5 separate regions of the Homo sapiens genome follow, and regions 1, 2, 3 and 5 are each linked to region 4. Evidence: fine-mapped QTL for protein levels in blood plasma. Region 4 holds a variant in brackets. A gene starts in each other region. All regions are shown on their reverse strands. Distances are from middle to middle.

What was found. PIP is the chance, under the fine-mapping model, that this variant and not a neighbour inherited with it causes the effect. The UK Biobank Pharma Proteomics Project read protein levels with antibody pairs (Olink). The fine-mapping took linkage between variants from a reference panel, not from the people measured, so its PIPs are less certain.
Region 1: ICAM2 starts here. The variant in region 4 is fine-mapped to the plasma level of the ICAM2 protein (UK Biobank, PIP above 0.99).
Region 2: TIE1 starts here. The variant in region 4 is fine-mapped to the plasma level of the TIE1 protein (UK Biobank, PIP 0.97).
Region 3: CD200R1 starts here. The variant in region 4 is fine-mapped to the plasma level of the CD200R1 protein (UK Biobank, PIP above 0.99).
Region 5: it holds the start of FLT4, and the variant in region 4 is fine-mapped to the plasma level of the FLT4 protein (UK Biobank, PIP above 0.99).

The regions. Positions count from the first base shown.
Region 1 is chr17:64,019,022-64,023,021 of GRCh38, reverse strand. It overlaps ICAM2 (intercellular adhesion molecule 2), which reads left to right and starts at 2,389. Exons shown (of 5, transcript NM_001099789.2): 1 at 2,389-2,499. RefSeq lists enhancers at 1,950-1,999, 2,220-2,309, 2,055-2,555, 2,650-2,769.
Region 2 is chr1:43,299,323-43,303,471 of GRCh38, reverse strand. It overlaps TIE1 (tyrosine kinase with immunoglobulin like and EGF like domains 1), which reads right to left and starts at 2,490. Exons shown (of 23, transcript NM_005424.5): 1 at 2,343-2,490. The coding sequence starts at 2,400. RefSeq lists an enhancer at 2,431-2,520 and a silencer at 2,551-2,650.
Region 3 is chr3:112,973,157-112,977,305 of GRCh38, reverse strand. CD200R1 (CD200 receptor 1) reads left to right here and starts at 2,203. Exons shown (of 8, transcript NM_138806.4): 1 at 2,203-2,515. The coding sequence starts at 2,449.
Region 4 is chr3:98,695,750-98,699,898 of GRCh38, reverse strand. No RefSeq gene overlaps it. Among named protein-coding and RNA genes, the nearest start is that of ST3GAL6-AS1, 35 kb to the left of the region's middle. The variant C/A (reference allele first, on the strand shown) is at 1,843.
Region 5 is chr5:180,646,994-180,651,142 of GRCh38, reverse strand. FLT4 (fms related receptor tyrosine kinase 4) reads left to right here and starts at 1,543. Exons shown (of 30, transcript NM_182925.5): 1 at 1,543-1,655. The coding sequence starts at 1,598.

The DNA.
Region 1 (4,000 bases), not on the chromosome of region 4:
ATTGCGCCAGAGCAATGTGTGGCCTTGACTGTCCTCCTGGCCTCTGAATGGTCTAATTTGTGACTTTGCTAAGCCAGAAGTTTCAATGTGCTGTGAGGCTGGCCCGTGGGAGCAAGATCCTCTGCTCGTGGGTGAGCCTAGCTGGCTGCCCGCCACCCACCTCTGCACCCAGTGTTCATACTTTCTGCTTGTTTGTACAAAGTCACTCTTCTAGAGTAATTGTTGTAAAATTGCTAGGCAAGGTGGCAGGTCTGATAAGATTTGATGAAGTGATAGGTCTTAGTCACTAATAAGAGGCTTTTTTGGAATGGTGTGTCACAGCCAAGGAAGCCTCAGCTCTGTGATCTTCGCCTGCCTCACTTGGGGGACCAGAAGGTAGCTTGTCCTGGAACTGCCTCATTCACAGAAGGCCCCAGTGAGTACAGAAACTGCACATCAAAGGGAGGAGTAAGGAAAACAGGATGGCAAATCTTCAAAAATTAAACAAAATTACTTTTTTTTTTTTTTGTAGCGATGGGGTCTCACTTTGTCACCCAGGCTGGTCTTGAAGTCCTAGACTCAAGCAATCCTCCCACCTCAGCCTCCCAAAGTGCCGGATTTACAAGTGTGAGCCACCAAGCCCAGTCAGAATTACCACTAAAAAAAAAAAAGAAAAAAGGTTAAGATGGTAGATTTTGTTGTGTATATTTTACCATTATGATCCAGCATTTCCACTTCTGGGTACATACCCCAGAGAACTGAAAGCAGAGTCTTGAGCAGGTATTTGTACAACCCTGTTTGTAGCAGCACTATTCACAATAGCCAAAGGTGGAAGCAACACAGGTGTCCATCAGTATATGAATGCATGAACAGAATGCGGCACACACGCACAATAGGATATTGCTCAGCCTTCAAAAGGAAGGCAGTTCTGGCCAAGCGTGGTGGTTCATGCCTGTAATACCAGCACTTTGGGAGGCTGAGGTGGGCGGATCATTTGAGGTCAGGAGTTCGAGACCAGCCTGGCCGACATGATGAAACCCCATCTCTACTAAAAATACAAAAATTAGCCAGTCGGCACGTGCCTGTAATCCCAGCTACTCAAGAGGCTGAGGCAAGGCCAGGCACGGTGGCTCATGCCTGTAATCCCAACACTTTGGGAGGCCAAGGCGGGCGGATTGCCTGAGCTCAAGAGTTTGAGACCAGCCTAGGCAACATGGTGAAACCCCATCTCTGCTAAAATACAAAAGAAATTAACCAGGCGTGGTGGCGTGCACCTGTAGTCCCAGCTACTCAGGAGGCTGAGGCAGGAGAATTGCTTGAACTCGGGAGGCGGAGGTTGCAGTGAGCCGAGATCACACCACTGCACTCCAGCACTCCAGCCTGGGCGACAGAGTGAGGCTCCATCTCTACAAAACAAACAAACAAACAAACAACAACAACAACAACAAAAACACTGAGGCAAGAGAATCGTTTGAACCTGGGAGGCAGAGGTTACAGTGAGCCAAGATCACACCACTGCACTCCAGCCTGGGCAACAGAGCGAAACTCCATCTCAAAAAAAAAAAAAGAAAGAAAAGAGAAAGAGAGAGCTCCAGAGATGGATGGTGGTGATGGTTGCAGAACAATGTGAATGTACTTAGTGCCCCAAACTGTACACTTAAACATAATTAAAATGGGCCTAGCACGGTGGCTCATTCCCAGCATTTGGGAGGCTGAGGTGGGAGGATTGCTTGAGCTCAAGAGTTTGAGACCAGGCTGGGCAACATAAGCAACACTCTGTCTCTACAAAAACTACAGAAATTAGCCAAGCCTGGTGGCTGCACACTTGTAGTCCCAGTCACTTGGGAAGTTGAGGAGGGAGGGTCACTTGAGCTCAGGGGTCAGAGGTTGCCACGAACTGTGATTGTGCCACTGCACTCCAGCCTAGGTGACAAAAGCAAGACTCTGTCTTAAAAACAACACAACAAAAAATTGGCTGGACGCAGTGGCTCTTGCCTGTAATCCTAGCACTTTAGGAGGCCGAGGAAGGCAGTTCACTTGAGGTCAGGAGTTCGAGACCAGCCTGGCCAACATGGTGAAACCCTGTCTCTACTAAAAATACAAAAATTAGCCAGGCGTGGTGGCAGGTGCCTGTGGTCCCGGTTACTCTGCGGGCTGAGGCACAAGAATCACGTGAACTCGGGAGGCAGAGGTTGCAGTGAGCCGAGATCACACCACTGCACTCCAGCCTGGGTGACTGAGACTCAGTCTAAAAAAAAAAAAAAAATTGAAATGGTAAATTCTGTTGTGTACGTTTTACCACAATTAAAAAAAAAAAAAGCGGAATGGGAGTGGAGCTAAATGAGGCTAGTTTAGGGTGGGAACCGGGGCACAGGAAGCACGTCACTTCTGGTGGGGAGTGGGGGGAGGGAGAAGACTGAATAAGCCGTGAACTGGGCAGCTGTGACACGCGCACCTTGTCACCTTGTCACCAATTTCCTGCCCGGGATCCCAGAGCTACCCTTCTTGGAGCCCACAGGGGTAAGGTTGAGCTTCTCACTTTCCCTCCAATGAAGCGTGGCAGCATGGGAAGGATTTTGGCAGTGTCGAGGTCTGAGTTTTAGTCCGTTCCCCTCTCTGGGTCTCAGTTTCTCGCTGGTAAGTGCAGGGGTTGGGGAATCCCCAGCGCTCCTGTGGCTCGACATTCTGCACTCTGTGAAGCTCCTGCCCTGCCCTGCTGGGTCTCTGAGCTCACGCACTTGCCCTGGCGCTCCTTTCCTGATTTGTCTCCCCTCTCTCCTTCCTCTGCTCTGCCATCTCGGTGGCCGATGTAGAAATGTGGGGCTGCCTCCTTATTTAGGGGCCCACGTGGGCTGTGATCTGGACCATCTGAGCTGATGCAGAGGGGAAGGGACAGTCCCTGTTCTCCCCGGCAGGCGTGGTGGGTTCATAATGAATCTCAGTCACTCACTTCCTACCTGCCTCGGTTCGAGGGGGTCTTTCCTAACCCATGGCTCACATTCCCATGAAGCCTCTTCTTTCTAGGCACGTAGAAAGGCCCTTTTTCCCTTTTATTATTTTTGTAAAATTTACTAGGTAACGCATAAAAAGCTTATGTAACATACATATACATCATACTGCACAGTAATATACCAAACACACCTGAAGCTGCCACTCAGCACAAGGATGGAGTATCACCAAACTGCAAACACCACTTATCTGCTTTTTTTTTTTTTTTTTTTTTTTGAGACAGAGTTTTCATTCTTGTCGCCCAGGCTGGAGTGCAGTGGCACAATCTTGGCTCACCACAACCTTCGCCTGCTGGGTTCAAGCGATTCTCTTGTCTCAGCCTCCCAAGTAGCTGGGACTACAGGTGCGCATGCCACCATGCCCAGCTAATTTTTGTGTTTTTGGTAGCGACAGGGTTTCACTATGTTGGCCAGGAGAGTCTCGATCTCTTGACCTCATGATCCGCCCACCTCGGCCTCCCAAAATGCTGGGATTACAGGCGTGAGCCACCACACCTGGCCACCACTTGTCCACTTTTATGCTACTTGCCTCCCACCCACAGGTAGCCACCCTCTGGAATTTTGTGTTTATTGTTCTCTTATTTTTAAGTGCTTTATTACATATGCATCTCTATTTATTTATTTATTTATTTATTTACTGAGATGGGGTCACACTATATTTCCCAGGCTGGAGTGCAGTGGCTATTCACAGGCATGATCATAGCACACTACAACCTCGAACTCCTGGGATCCAGTGATCTTCCCACCTCAGCCTCCTGATTAGTTGGGACTACAGTCTTGAACTGCTGCACCTGGCTATGCCTATTTATTTTTATTTTATGAAACAGTTATATAGCGTTACTGTGTGCTAGGCACTGTTCTAAATGCTTTAAAATATTTACTTATTTTATTTGTTTAATCTGCACAAAAACCCTATGAGGAAGATACTATTATTGATTCCTTTTTGCAGATGAGGAAATTGAGGCACAGAAAGATTAAGTGATTTGCTCAAGGTCACACAGATAGTGAGAAGT
Region 2 (4,149 bases), not on the chromosome of region 4:
CGAAGCTGGCATTTACTGACCGCCCACCACATACCAACCCCCATTTTCCACTGGATCCTCACAACCAGTGAAGTGGATATTCTTTCCAGTTACAGAGGAGGATCATGGTAATTATTCTACTGGCTTCTTTGAGCAAGCTCGCCCACTCCCCCAGTTTTAACCATCACCTCTGAGTCAGTAACTCGGGAACGGTCTTTCAGCTTGGACCTGCATTTCCATCAGCTTTTCCCAAATCTGCTCCTCTCCAGTGCTCCCTGACTCACTGGACAGCACCCGCCACTTGAGACACAAACTATGGAGTCATCTCTACTCCCATTGTCATAATAATGAATGTTTATTGGCTGCCAGTTATGCACCAGGCACTTTACTGATATTGTTTCATTTTACCATCCCAGCTATCCTGGGAGGTGGATGTTATTATCCCTGTTTTATAGCCAGGAAAGGGAGGCTCAGAGAAGTTAAGTAACTTGCCCAAGGTCATACAATTAGTGAGTGGCAGGGCCAGGTTGTCTGATTCTAAAGTCCACATCTCTGAGCACTGTGCTGCCTGCCTCATCAGTCATAGAATTCTGCACATTGTTTCCTGAACGCTTCTTGACTTCATCCCCACCCCCCCAGCCTGCCTTTGTTCAGCCCTCATCCTTACTCACCTAGACCATCCCAACAGCCACAGCCCCTCCTTCTGCAACTCATCCTCCACGGTGATCTAAGACCAAACCTGACCTTGTGACTTTCTTGCCTGTGACCTCCCATGGCTCCCTATTGCCCTCAGGATAATGTTCGTGCTCCTAAGCCCCGTGATGCTCCCACGCTATCCCTCCTGTTGTGTTCCTAACAGGCACCTTCTCTCCCATGCACCTCCATGCCTCTGAGACTTGCATTTTTTATGTTCTGGCTGCCTGGAATGAAGACCACCCCTCTTAGTGAAATCTTCCTTGATTCCCTTTTTGTCTCCTACCTGAGGCAGTGTAAGCTGAACTCCTCCTCAGTGCTCCTCTAGAGCTCCTGTGTCTGTCCCTGTTTAGCCCTCTTCCCCTGTCCTGTGTTCTGCACTAGACCATGAACCACTCAAAGGCAGCCTCTGTGTTCTAATCGGCTGACCAGCAGACTGAAGGAATCAGCTGCCACCTACTCAGAAATCCTTACCAAGCACAGTGCACTGTGCCAACTGCTCTGCATCATTTTCTCATTTAAACCCCATAACAACCATAGGAGGCTGGCATCATTTAATCTCATTGTACAGACTAGGTGTTGCCAGCCTCTCAACTAATGGCCCAGCACTTAGCACAACTCCTGGAATATTGTTGGTGCTCAATAAATGTTTGTCCAGTGAACAACTGAGTGAATCCAACACAATTACCCTATGAACACCCCCTGAAAATGGCCCTCCACAGATCCTCAGATCCAACACAGTCAGCGGCTACTCCTCACTCCTCCCCTGATCCCAGGTTGCAGTGATTTCTAGCACTTGCCTGTGTTTTCCTGGCCTTGATCTCACTTTCTAGTGGATCAAAGTGATGGCAGTGATGATAGGGCTTGTTTTCCAAAATTTTTTGTTGTGGTGAAATGCATATAAAATAAATTTTACCATCTTTTTTTCTTTTTAGATGAGTCTTGCTCTGTCGCCCAGGCTGGAGTGCAGTGGCGCGATCTCAGCTCACTGCAACCTCTGCCTCCCAGATTCAAGCGATTCTCTTGCCTCAGCCTCCCAAGTAGCTGGGATTACAGGCTCCTGCCACCACGCCCGGCTAATTTTTGTATTTTTAGTAGAGATGGGGTTTCACCATGTTTGCCAGGCTGGTCTCGATCTCCTGACCCTGTGATCCACCCGCTCGGCCTCCCAAAGTGCCGGGATTACAGGCGTGAGCCACCACACCCGGCAAATTTTGCCATCTTAACCATTTGTAAGCAGCATATAACCCAATGTGATTAAATACATTCCTAGTGTTGTCCCACCATCACCACCATCCATCCTTTTTTTTTTTTTTTGAAAAAGACGAAAGTCTAAACACAATGGAGACGGGGTCTCACTATGTTGACCAGTCTGGTCTTGAACTCCTGGCCTCAATTGATCCTCCCATCTCAGCCATCCAAAGTGCTGGGATTACAGGTATGAACCACCGCACCCGGCCCCATGTTTATAACTCTTTTAATCTTGTAAAACCAAGTAAAAATCTTGTAAAAACGCTGTACCTTTTAAACAAAACTCCCCATTTCTTCCTCCCTGCAGCCCATGGCAACCATCATCCTACTTTCTGTCTCTATGATAAAATAGGGTTTCTTGGGTAGAAATCAGGGCCTCGGGGCCTAGAAATGGGGTGAGGGACTCAGGGGAGACTTACCCACATGAGAAGCCAAGAAGAGGATGGGGAGCAAGAAAGGGGGCACCCGCCAGACCATACTCCAGAGGCCGACCCAGGCCAGCCAGGACGAGCTGGGCCTGGGGTCAGATGCTGTGGGCCTGACTGCTCAGCCTGTGTTGGTCAGTGTGGGTCGGTGCTGGGGAGGAAGAGGAAATGAGGTGGCTTGGGTGGGAGGGGTGGCAGGGTAGGGGGTGGGAGGACTCATTCTGCCTTTGAGCCTCTAGGCCCCCCAATCTGGCCCCCACAAGGCTGGGGATGGGTGTGGCCTGGGAGGAGTCACTTGAGGTGGGGGGAAGGTTATGGTAAGGGCAGACCTGGGGACAGCTGGACTGATTTTTCCCATCCCCTGTCTCTCTCCAGTACTCAGTCTTGCTGGCACAAAGGAGGCAGGAGGCAGGAAAGGGAGGAAGCCAGTGGCTTCCGCCTATTGAGGAGGGGGGTGGGGTGGGGGACATTGTTCTGGGGTCTCCCCTCCCCCCGGCACAAACACACAATACGGCCCACATGAGTCCTCATGTATGTGCCCCAGGACACAGACAGTTACATGGGTTTCCTAGAGAGCAGTTCACATACGAAACACAAAGGACCTCTGTGGGCCTGAGAAGCACATACACTCAAAGGAACACAGGGCCCTGGCAACAAAGAGCCTTCGAGTCTACCTTGTGTACCTCTCTCATTGTACAGATGGGAAAACTGAGGCTTGCTGTGCTCGAGGGCACCCTGAGGCTGTGGCAAGGCTGGGACTTGAACTTCTGACTTAGTCCTTGCTTTCTTGGTGCCAATCGCTCCACAAGGGCTCACATTAAGCAGTCCCGGGGAGCACACAGGGAGTATCGGTTGCATAGATAGTCCTCAGCTTAAGCTGCTAATGAAAGCTTCAGCTTATTGTCTGCCAGGTGTCATTCATTTTGCGGCAAACCCCTGCCTATTCCTGGGCACTGGGGCAGCAGAAGTCTGCCCAGGGAGGTGCACTCACTCTTGACGGCTGACAACAACCTGGGAGCAGTCGCACTGCTTTGGCAAAGTCTCTAAAGCCCCATGGATCTTGCCTCTGCTTCCCTCCCAGACTCACCTCTCCCTGCCCTGGCACCCGTTGCTCCACCTCTTGCCACCACTGGCAGTTCCCAGAACGGAACAAGACCTGTAGGTACAGAACGCCCACGAGGAGGCCCTTCCAGGGAGCAGAGGGAGCAACCGTTGGATGGGCAGCCTTGCTGGTTAAATCGATGACCCCTCTGACCCGGAATGGAATGGTTGGGATGGATGAGACTTGGTGTCAGTTTAGGTGACTTAGGTCTGGTAGTACAAACCCTCCCCCTGGGCCTGGGACATCTTCCCAGAGTGTGTTCTGGGTGAAGGCTTCATTCTCCTCTGAATGCACCGGGCTCACATTCACTTTTCTCAGGAGGCTGGGTCCCTGCAGCTTGGTTGAGCTGGTTTAGGCCCAGGGCTCTTCTGAAGCGCCCTGAAAAGTCCCAGGAGACGCTTTGACTCCTGGAGTAGCATAGAAAAGGATCGGGAAAGACCTCCCTACTGATGTGTGACCCACAGAGATTCCCATTCCTGGGCCTGAGGCTGGGAGGAGCTTTCTCTAGACAAGGCTTTGGGTGGGATGGGAGTAGGAGCAGGGGGAGAGTGGTGGATGCCTTACACTTCAGCTCATCCTGGTGCCAGACCTTTGAATCTGGAATGAAAAAGGAGCTGGAAAGTGCTGGGACTGTTTGTATGGCAGGATTCACTTTTGTGGAACTTTTCCTTTGGTTCTTGGAAGACCTGGGGGGCCTGA
Region 3 (4,149 bases), 14 Mb before region 4:
TGAGAGGTTACAGGCATGTGATTTGGGGGTGGAGAGGATGAGGGACCAGGGAGAGAAACTGTCATCCTGCCAAATCTATTTAGTGAATTTTATGGTTTTTGATACCCATCACTTGATTCTTAAACTGCTGATTGCAGATTGTGGTCTGACCTCAGGTGAGTGCATTGGAGTGTGTCTATGAAAGTTGTTGCCTGAAATTTCAAAGTAGAGGAGTTGAGTGAAAAGAACACAGGGCTACGAAATATAACACATTTTATTCCCAGCCGTGCCAATAAGTTGTTTTGAGGCCACAGGCCATTTAGCCCTTCTGTGGTTTAGTTTTGGCTATGTCATTGAGCAGATATTAAAATAAATGATCTCCAAGAATTTTTGATGACATGAGAAAAAGCTAATGTCAATATAATATAAACAGATACAGACTTGAGTAAGAAACTTTCCCAGTATCACTGGACTAGTAATTGCACAACAGAGACTTAACCCTATGTCTATCTGTATCCTAAGCGAGTGTGAATTTTAACTTTAACTTCTCTCTGCTCACTGCAACCTCTGCCTCCTGGGTTCAAGCGATTCTCATGCCTCAGCCTCCCAAGTAGCTGGGACTACAGATGAGTGCCATCACACCTGGCTAATTTTTTTTTTTTTTTTTAAGTAGAGATGGAGTTTGGAGTTTTGTCATGTTGCCCAGGCTGGTCTCGAACTCCTGAGCTCAGGCAATCTGCCCGCCTCGGCCTCCCAGTGTCCTAAGATTACAGACATGAGCCACTACTCCCGGCCAACTTTCACTTCTATGTAGTGGAAAACCAGAATATTATCTGTATTTTAAATGATGTATTCTCACTAATTTTCCGACACCTGGTGAAACATTAGACAGAAGAGAAGACATTTTTGTTTTGGTCTTCCCATTGTCACAGCTCATACCCTTAAGTGTTCCATGCCCTCAAGGATCTGGTTTCACTGTCTTCATCAAATTAATTAACTGGAAAAAAAAGCTTGAGAAGGGGAAGGGGGGAAATATTTATAATGTTTGGCAAGAAGGAAGATGAAACTGCTAACTGAGAAAAAAAATGCATGCTGTTTAATCTTTTTCCTGTTTGCAATGTTTTCTTCCCCTTCCTGTACAGTTTTGCCTTGGGGCAGAAAATTCTCAGCACATAGAAGATTTTTCCCTCTCTCAGACATAACTTAAAAGCATAGTAACATAGTAACTAGCAACAGTAAGGAAGAGGTTTTTTTGTTGTTGTTGTTGTTTTTTTTTTTTGGTTAGGGGGAGTCTGAATTCCAGATGTGTGGCAACTAAGAGATGGGTGATTATTTGTAATTTGGTTAAAATGATCAGTCTAATTTTCCAAAGGTGAAACTGAATGGCAATAAGTACTGAGTTCTGATAAACAGAATGCCCTCACCCCCAACAAGGTAGATACCTATGTCCGAATTACCGAAACCTGTGAATGTTACCTTGTGTGGCAAAAAGGACTTTGCAGATGTGATTAAATTAAGATCTTGAAATTAGATCATGTTGGATTATTTGGGTGGACCAAAAATAATCACAAGGTCTTTATAAAAGGGAGGCATAAGGGTCACAGTCAGAGAAGATGTGACAGTGGACCAGAGGTCCGAATGATGTAGCTGCAAGCCAAGAAATGCAGGCATTCTCAAATCGCTGGAAAAGGCAGGGAGCAAATTCTGCCCGAGCCTCCAGATGGAGTGCAGCCCTTCCAACACCTTGATTTTAGTCCCCTAAGATCCATTTCAGACTTCTGATCACCAGAACTGTAAGATAATAAATGTTGTGTTGTGTTAAGCCACTGAGTTTGTGGTAATTTCTTACAGTAGCAATAGGAAACTAATACACATATGATGTTTACAGGGTTGTGTGTTGACTCCCATTATAGACAGGAATTTCACACAATAATTTTCAAGAAAACATATTGTATTCCAGACTCAAATACTAAGGCCGTAAAGCTCTTCAACCTGGAGAAAGCCTCTAAAAGTCATCATAATTGGGAAATTTACAAGGATGGGCCAAAGTAGATCAATATTCTGTTTTACTTTTTGGTGCAAGTTTAGACAAATCTGTTTATCTTGGACACGTTCAATGCCTTACTGTAAAGTTTGTCTGTGTACAGCAGAAGTGAGAGGAGAACCAATGAGCTGAGAGATAATTCAATCAATCTGCTTCCTCCGTCTTTGCTTCAGGGCTTCATACAGGAAATCTATTGCTGTGTCAAGTTCCAGAGAAAAGCTTCTGTTCGTCCAAGTTACTAACCAGGCTAAACCACATAGACGTGAAGGAAGGGGCTAGAAGGAAGGGAGTGCCCCACTGTTGATGGGGTAAGAGGATCCTGTACTGAGAAGTTGACCAGAGAGGGTCTCACCATGCGCACAGTTCCTTCTGTACCTGTGTGGAGGAAAAGTACTGAGTGAAGGGCAGAAAAAGAGAAAACAGAAATGCTCTGCCCTTGGAGAACTGCTAACCTAGGGCTACTGTTGATTTTGACTATCTTCTTAGTGGCCGGTAAGTTTGAATTCTCTTTGGGAGAACAGTGAGAAACCTGGTCTCAGCTCTTCCTGAGTTTATTTTTTGTCTTTCTTCTGGGGCAATACAAATCAATTGCAATAATAAATATAGGGGGTTGCTAAATATGGGTTACTCCCATATCTAGTTTACTTTATTATCCTTTTTTCCGGTGTCTTGCTTGTTGTACTTTGTATCCTACTACAATATACAGATCTCTATAATTTGTCTTACTGTCCATTTCCTTATTTCCTCCTGTTTTTTGAACAAGGCAGGATAAATCAAATACATACTAGCAGCAATCAAAGTCAGTTAGGTTCTCTTTATCTTATTCTCTTCCCCAACCCCCTTTTTTGAGACAGGGTCTTGCTCTGTTGCCCAGGCTGGAGTGCAGTGGTGCAATCGTAGCTCACTGCAGCCTGTAACTCCAGGTCTCAAGCAGTCCTCCCACTCAGCCTCCTGAGTGTCTAGGACTACAGATATGCGCCACTATGCTTGGCTAATTTTTAAAATTTTTGGTAGAGATAGAGTCTTGCTATATTGTCCATGCTGGTCTTGAGCTCCTGTCTTCAAGCAATTCTCCCACCTCAGACTCCCAAAGCATTGGGATTACAGGCATGAGCCACTGCACCCAGCCTCTTCTCTCTTAATTTTTTTTTTTAAGATAAGAACGCTAACTCATTTAGGTCCACATTGCCAGTGGCATAGATTAGGACAGTTTATTGCTTTCTGTCACTTTCGATGATTAGGCACTTCAAAAATATAATATGCCTACAGTTACAGTGGTGCGTCTGTGATGTATGTCTGTATTTATCTTCAAGATGTGTGGGCTGTAAGAGACACTACGAGTTAGAGAACAGACTCTTCAACATCTAGGTTCCTATAGAAGTTATAGAGAACTTGGGCCACTGTGGGGGTGTCCTGGTTTCACTGTAGAAGGTTGGTAGGAGTTGGTGTGGGAGGGAGTTTTCAGGTTTCACTTTTGGTAGACAGAGCAGCTGCAAGGGAAGAGTGTAGTTGGTTTTAAATGTTATAATTTGATAATTGAAAGAAGAAAAGGTATTTTTCCTCATTTCTGAATGACTTTAAAATGCTGCTTATCTTCCACAAAAAATCTTCTTTCCACATGTTAATCTTACTAGTGAACACATGCAAAATAACTACACTCTTTGACTGCACCTTTCTATTGAGAATTTTCACATGCTTTTTTCCCTTTGATCTGCACAGCAACCCAGTGAAGTAGACATGGAAGACACCTCTCCATTTTACAAAGGTAGAAATGGAGGCGTAGAGAGGTGAAATGATTTGGCCAAGGTTAGATATGACTAGTATGTGCCAGAATCACAATCAGTAATGATATACATCAGTAAGCACCACTAAACATTTGAGTGGGCAATTTTCCTCATTATTTAACCATTGTGCTTTTCACTGAAGAGCATCAGTGAAAAAAGTCAAGCCAATACTTAGTTTTAGCCTTAATAGACTGTTACTCACCTAAAAAGTCAAGTGATCTGAATCTTTCAGTAGTTCAGATCTTGTTGTAGAAAGCTCTTATAGCAACTTGTGTAGGACCCAGCTTGGCTGGGGCAGCCAGATAGGCAAGGAGCTGTTTATGTCAAATTGCACTGTTACTC
Region 4 (4,149 bases):
ATTTAGATTAGCAACAAAATAATATATTTATAAATAAATCTAAAAGATGTATGAAATGTTATTTATGGATAGAAAGAGTCAACATTAAAAATATGCCAGTTCCTCTAAATGTATCTATAGATTTAACACAATTCCAGTGAAAATTTCAACAGGGTATTTTTTGGTTCCACTGTACTTGATAAGCTCATTCAAAATGTATAGAGCTGAAAAAAAAGCCAAGAATAGCCCCAGGACTCTTCTGAAGGAAAAGGTGTGTATGGTGGGGAGAGATTTGCCTCAGCAGATATCAAGCTATATTGAATTTTAGTATCCAACTGGTGTAGACACAGACAAGTAGACAAACCACCCTCTAGCCAACTCATTTGCCTGGAATAACAGTTATGTTTATTTTATAATTTTTAAGTCAACTATTTTGGCTGGGATCAATTGGATGCTTTTCTCAACTGGCTCATTTAGTTCAGAGTGCCTCTGAGCAGGTAAAACTTGCTCTGACAGCTCTGCTCCTGAAGGTTGATCAGCTGTTGGCTGGGTGACAGCGGTGGTTGGGACACACATCTCTTGTCATCCAGCAGGTATTCCCTGTGGGTTTGCAAGGGGCAAACTGTTATGTTTAGAGCCAAAGTGATCTAGGCCTGAAACTATTCCTTCTGCAGATGAGATCCTTGCACCACAGTCTCATCTAATAATGGTTTGGGATCTCATAATCTAAATCAGATCAGATGAGTCTCTTCCGATATTGCTCTTCTAGTTTTAGAAGCCAATGAACTAAAAAGACAAATTATCTGCCCCAACACACGTGATATATAATGATGAAGCAGGGACAGGATTATTTCAATAAACATATTGAAATATCTGTTTAAGTCTTCTTGTATAATTTTTACAACCATTTCTTTGTCCACATGGTCAAATTCAGATTCAAGGAATAGAACAGAATTTACCTCTTCATGGGAGTAGTTGCAAAGTCACATTGTGAATGGATAAGCATACAGGGATAGATAGAATTTGTGGCCACTTTTGCAATTTATCAATAACATCGATTTTTTTTTTTTCTGAGGGGGACAGAGTCTTACTCTGTTGCCCAGGATGGAGTGCAGTGGTGCTGTCTCAGCTCACTGCAACCGCCGCCTCCCGGGTTCAAGAGATTCTCCTGCCCCAGCCTCCCAAGTAGCTGGGATTACAGGCACCCGACACCACGCCCTGCTAATTTTTTTGTATTTTTAGTAGAGACGGGGTTTCACCGTGTTAGCCAGGATGGTCTTGAACTCCTGACCTCGTGATCCGCCCGCCTTGGCCTCCCAAAGTGCTGGGATTACAGGCGTGAGCCACCACGCCCATCCAATAACATGAAATATTTTAAAGTAGTAGTTTAAACATTTATTTTGTGGCGGGGCGCAGTGGCTCACATGTGTAATCTTAGCACTTTAGGAGGCTGAGGCAGGTGGATCATGAGGTCAGGAGTTCGAGACCAGCCTGGTCAACATGGTGAGACCCTGTCTCTACTAGAAATACAAAAATTAGCCAGGCTTGGTGGCAGGTGCCTGTAATTCCAGCTACTCAGGAGGCTGAGGAGGAGAATTGCTTGAACCCGGGAGGAGGAGTTTGCAGTGAGCTGAGACCACGCCACTGCACTCCAGCCTAGGCAACAGAGTGAGACTCTATCTCACGAAAAAATTATTTTGTATATTAGCCACCTATATAACGATAATGTATATAAATAGATATTTCAAATAATATTCTTGGTAATTTTAGTGTTTCTGGCAACAGCTTGTGGCAGGAATAAAAGTGTTAGCCCTGCAGTTTTCTAATTGTTCCCTCGTACATGCATTATTAACACCTTCAATT[C/A]TTTGCTGGAATAGATTTTTTAGTCACCTACCCATTTTGTGAGGACTAGTTAGGTTAAAATCAGAGCCAGAATATGTAAATTCACTTAACAAGGCACCTGTGTTCTGCAATATATAGCAAACCAATGAGCAATGGTGCTGTTGCGTTGTCATTGTGTATCTTCTACTTGTCCCTTAGGCCCTTTTCACATTGTACATGACAGGTGATTGGCTGACAATCATAAGGGAAGTGTCAATATATGTTTTTAAAATATTTTAAACTAAAACTACATATAAAGAGAATGCATATATCCTAATACAGCATATTCTACTTGCACCCTAATGGATTGTCTGGTGTACTCTCTAGAGATTGTTTGCACCGGTATTTCGATAATTTCCTCATCATCAAGGCTACCCACAACATTTTGGAAAACTTGCATCACTTTAACTAAGTCATTTGTACATAACTTTTAAGCGGGGTAGTGGGAGGTCTGGTCATTCTCTTTTTGGAAAGCAAAGAAGCCTGTATTATCCAGTCTGCCCTATTTTCAGTTCTGGCTGAGAAAGAATGTAGACCTTCTTCTAAGTCTCAGTAGATAGATGAACTGACAGACAAATAGATAAATTAGATAATTCATAGGCAGAAATGTATCATTTTATTTGATTAACCTGATTTTTGTTTTGTTTGCCCTCAAGCTTTAGGAGAAAGAAATGAATCACAAGAAAAGCTAATAGTCAGAAGTTATTCATGAATCTAAATTCCTGGTTATGTCTGGTGGTCAGTACAGAATTTGACCCAATGCTTTCTATGTGTTTAGCCCTTCAACAGTGATTTCAAATGTTCCTATTCGTAATTCCTAAGGTACTACAAAAATATCACCTTTCCTTTATGAAAAGTTTATATAGAGAGGGGTTATATATGAGATACGTGTGTGTGTACATATATATATATTTATCATATATATGATAGTTAATTTTATGTGTTAACTTGGCTGGGTCATGCTGCTCAGATATGTGATCAAACATTATTCTGGATATTTCTGGATAGGGGAGTATGGATGAAAATAGCATTTAAATTAGTGGACTTTGAGTGCAGCAGCTTGCTCTCCATAATGTGAGTAGACATCATCCAATTACTTCAATAGAACAAAACAATAGTTTCCCCAGAGAAGGGAGAATTTTCCAGAAGATGGCCTTCAGTAGTGAACTGCACCATTAACTCTCCCCTGGTCTCCAGTCTGCTGGCCCAACCTGCAGATTTTGGATTTGCCAACCTCCATATTCATGTGAGCCAATTCCTCTATCTATCTATCTATCTATCTATCTATCTATCTATCTATCTATCATCTATCTATCTATCTATCTATCTACATATATATACATGCACATACACATCATGTTGCTTCTGTTTATATATAATTTGTATATAAACATACATATGAAATTTATAAGAAAAGGAAGTAGATGAGTTTAAAGAGAGGTTTACAGCAATGCATTGTCATAGAAAGGAATTTCTGGCCTAATAGAATTTGCCATTCTTTAATTATACTAAATAAAGATTCTCCTGTGCTTGCTCAGAATTCACCAGTGCTTACGAAATTCTGGTTTGGGGACACTCATTTAGGTTTTGAGTCCAACTGCTCGTTAGAATCCTGGTTCTGCCATTTTCTGGCACTGTGACCTTGGGTAAATGACTTCATTTCTCTCACCCCATTTTTCTCATCTACAAAATGAGGCCGTTTATACCTACCCTATGCCTAGGACAGTTGTGAGGACTGAATCAGCTAATTATGAGATGTTTTCAATAGTATCTGGCATGAAAAACATGAAAGTTCTTTAACTCTCTTCTTTAATTTTGAGTGAGCTTATTTGGTTTCTGTCCAGAGGATACTTGTTGTCTTTTTGCCACACTTAGTACTTTGATTCTTGAAAGGAAAAGTATCATAACCCCTTAGGTTGTGGCAAAAGAATTATCCAGAGATATATGGAAAAAATGGTTTTTATAGAGACAATAAATAACATCCTGAATTTGTATTAGGTGGCCAAAGAGGAAGATGACTCATGAATCATATGAAAATTCTTTCAGAAATGCAAATATTTCTCATCTACTGTTTTAAAGGTCTGGTATGTTCTCTTTTTCACCTCATAGAATTTAAATCTCCTGAGGGTCAAAGGGTTTCAAAGAGGAATTTGCATTAAAAAAAATTATTCCTGATATTTGATAGAATTTCTGCTTCTTTGGTAAGTGGGAGTAGAAGGGAGCTGGGAAATTCTTATTTCATACATTTCTGATGGAATCTTATTGACTGAGTAAGCAGGGGGAAATTTT
Region 5 (4,149 bases), not on the chromosome of region 4:
TTGCTTGACCCCAGGAGGCAGAGGTTGCATTGCAGTGCAGTGAGATCGTCCCACTGCACTCCAGCCTGGGCAACAAAAGAGAGACTTTGAGAAAAAAAAAAAAAAGTACATTCTGAAAAAAAAAGCAAAACATATATTTTGATGATAAAATGATAAACAAAAGCAGGGAAATGATAATGCCAGGGTAGTGGGCATCTTCTGGGGTTGGTGAGGGGTTTGTGATGGGAAGTGAGGGGATGTGGGGATGTCATTCTACATCCCTTGGCCTGGAGAATGGAAACACAGGTATTTGTTGCTTTAAAATTCAGGTTTATAATATGCTGATATATTATGTACTTTCCATAAGTGTGTTACATCTCATAATCTTTCAAAGCTAAAAAAAATCAATATATGATTGATAAATACCTAACTTCATGTATCGCTTGGTTACCTAGTTTCCCCAACCTTATTTGTTAAATTATCTACACTATCCGCACTGATTTGTGATTCCAGCTTAATAATATAGCCACTTCTTACCTGGATTGGAGAGAGCTGGTAGTGGTTATTGAAAATCTACTCTTGCTTTTTGGCGAGGATGAAAGGGCTTTGGGGGGCGGGGGTGGGGGGATGGAAAATGTGAATGAAACGAAAAGCAGGGAAGGAGGTTGAGACAGTCATGGTCATGGGCTTCATTATTAAACAGGAAAATTCTAGAGACAAACTGAAAAGAGAACGGAAGTCTGTAAGAGGGTTGCCAAGTCAGAAAGCAAAAGCAAAGTGTCGCTTTATTAAAAAGGTGGGGGCGGGTCCTGATTGAGCTGAGAACAAAACATCTGGGGGAGTTCTAAAGCTAGGAGGCCAGGCCTGCAGGGAGGGGGTCGGTCATCCCGGGTGTCCCGCTCACGGGTGCGGCTTCCGTCGACACTGTCCGTCGACACTGTGCAGGTAAACACTGCTGAACGGGTTTTGTTTTTGCTTTTTTTTTTTTTTTTTTGGCTCCCAGACTGGAGTGCAGTGGCGCGATCTCGGCTCACTGCAACCTCCTTCTCCCGGGTTCAAGCGATTCTCCTGCCTCAGCCCCCCCGAGAAGCTGGGATTACAGGCGCGCACAACCAAGCTCGGCGTATTATTTTATTTATTTGCTTGTTTATTTTTGAGACTGGGTCTCCCTATGTTACGCCGGCTGGTGCCACTATTTTCAAAGATGTAACATACTATTTTTACAAGGATTGCTTTCTTGTTTAGTCTAGATTTTACCGATGGAAAGAAAGGACGGAAAAGAGCGCGTGCCGCATTTTGCTCCCCTTTGCCCACCAGGCTCCATCACCTCCGGAGCGCATCGCGAGACCGTCTGCGTTACCCGCGTCCCCGCGCCCGGAGCCGCCCAGGAGGGGGCCCGGACCCTGTGGTGCGGAGCGCGCACTGCTCGGGTGCACCGGACGCCCCGCGGCGGGCTGGGAGGGACGGGGGGAGGGGGGCGCGGGGAGCGGCCTGAATCCCGGGCCCGCCTCCGGCCCCCGCCCCGCCCCGCCCCGCCCCAGGCCAGCCGGCGCCCGCGCGGACACTTTCAGCCCCGAGCCGCGGCCGCTCGGGTCGGACCCACGCGCAGCGGCCGGAGATGCAGCGGGGCGCCGCGCTGTGCCTGCGACTGTGGCTCTGCCTGGGACTCCTGGACGGTGAGCGCGGCGAACGGGCCACCCGCCCGAGCGTGGGGCTGGCCGGGGAGGGGGTACCGCGCACCTGGGGCGGGCGCTGAGACCGCTCCGCCGGGTACGGGCGGGGGACACGGTGGCCCTGGTGCGCGGACGCCTGAGGGGAGCACGGCGCTTGGGGCGCGGGACCTCGGGATGAGGAAGGGGCGGGCGGGGACCGCAGCCGGGTCAGGGCCAGGGCGGCCGGGCCGCGCCTCGGCGCAGGGGTAGCTCTCCCGGCCCCTGAATCCGCGTCTCCGTCGGTGGCTCCGCGTCCTCGGAGCCGGGCCCTGCCGGGCTGCGCGCTGAGCCCGGATCCTTCGCGCCCTTACTCGCTTCCCCGCGGGGTCCCCGCGCCGCGCCGTCCCGACCCACGCGCGCCGGAGATCCATCCCGGCCGGGCCCCGGACTTGGGTGCGCACTTCCCGACGCCCAGCGCCTCCGCTCGCGGTCGGTCCCCCAGAGGGCGCTCGAGGCGGGCTTCCCCCTCCCCGTGGCCGGCGACGGCGGGGACAGGGGCCGGGGACCACCGCGCGCCCGAGGCGGACGGGTGCAGGTGCACGCTGGCACTTGAGACGAATCTTGAGGAGGCGAATCGCGGGCTGTCAGCGCCGCAGAAGGGGCGGAAGGCCAGGGGTCCCCGGATTTGAGGGGACAGGGGCCTCGAAGGCCAGCTGAGGAGCAGAGGCCCCCGCGGGAGGGTCCCCTGCACAGGAGAGGCGGGGTTCGGTTTGTGTTGGGATGTGGCTCTGGCGGGGAGAGACGCAGACCTGAAGCGGAGGCGGAGGGGTTGGAAAGAGGGACTGTGGGGGATGAGCGGGCGGCAGAGGGAGTGGATGGAGATGTCAGGGAGGAAGCTGAGAAGATGAGCTGGGAGTCCCCACGGAGCTGGTGTCCCTGGAAATCAAAGGGTGTAAGGGCGGGGTCAGGGGTTCCAGTGTCTGAAGCCCTGAAGTCAGCGACGGGGACCTCAACATTTCTGCACGCCATAGGAATTAAATACTGGCTTTACATGCTTGTAATTCTCACAGGGAGTGTCAGACCCATTTTACACATGGAGAAGCTTAGACCAAGGACATGTGTCACTTCCCCAAGGTCCCCAGGAGGCCCAAAGTAAGCCTGACAAAGCCTGCCTTTGCTCACCACCTGTATGTCCACTGGCTGAAGGGCAGAGGACAGGAGAGGGGGCAGGTCTGGCTCAACCAGGGGAGGAGGGAGGAGAACATCTATCTGGGCCTCCGAGTCGGGCAGGCCAGATCAGGGCGCTGCCCTTGGCCCTCCTGGACCCAGCCCAGGACCAGGCTCCCACAGGTGCTCAGGATGTATTTGTCGAGTGGCTGGTAGACCTTGGTTGGACTGCAGGGCTGTAGAATGGGAGACGCTTATCCTGGAGGAGACATGGGACAGGCACCTGGGCGCAGTGTCTGAGCTGGGCTGAGTAGCTGGAGAGGAAGAGAGAGACCCGGGAGGGGAACCCTGGAGGAGGGGCCCAGAGGGCAAGGGGGCTTCCAGGGATCCAGGGAACATTCTGCAGGTATAAGGAGAACCAGGAGAGGCCAGTGTCCTGGTGCTCCCGGGTGGAGCACAGAGGGACGTGGGGTGAAGGGTGAGGAAGCTATTCCCTGCAGTAAGTAGTGACTCTTAGTGACCCAGTTATGAAGAGGAGAGAGGGCATTAGTTGGGCGCCCCATGGAGAGGGGTGTCCTGGGCTGGACCTGGGTTTGGCTGGTGGGGAGATGGCAATGAAGACAGAGGTCATCCCTCCGTGAGCCCTGCACCTTGCTGTACCCCCTGCTAGGCTGAAGACCCCGGGAGCCCCCAGCTTGATGGGGGATGCCATGGCGGAAGCACAAGCCCTCAGCTGCAGTCGGGTGTCAGGGCAGCTGGTCCGGTGGGAGCTGCAGTCGGGTGTCAGGGCAGCTGGTCCGGTGGGAGCAGGCCAGAAGCCTGAGCATCCTGAAGCTGACCCCTTAAAAGTGTGCTATTGATCATAGAACCAGACTCTTGTCCTGCCTCTGCCGTAAAGTCCTTTCTGTGTGACCTGGGCCCCCTCCTTTCCCCTCCCTGCACCTCAGTTTCCCCAAGCATAGCCATGGCACAAGCATAGCCATGGCACAAGCATAGCCATGGCACAAGCTGGCAAGCCCCGAGGTTGTGTGGGTTGTGTGTGCTTGGGCTGGACTCCAAGACCCAGATGCCTGCTGCAGTTCCACAGTCTTGCCCCAGTGGAGAGGGTAGGTCACAGATGTCTCTTGGGGCTTAGTCTAGAGAGAGGCCATTGGCACCTCTGCACTGTGGCTACCAGCTCAGGGACATGCAGGAGCAGGGTCTGCTGGGCATCTGGAGTGGCCTGGTCTCAGGACGTTTGCCCTTGCTGTGACCTGGGTCACAAAGGCCCAGATGTGGACAGATGTGTGGCCCAGGGATGCAAGTCACTGCAGGCAGGATGTGGGGATCAGGCCCACTTTACTTGGGCCTG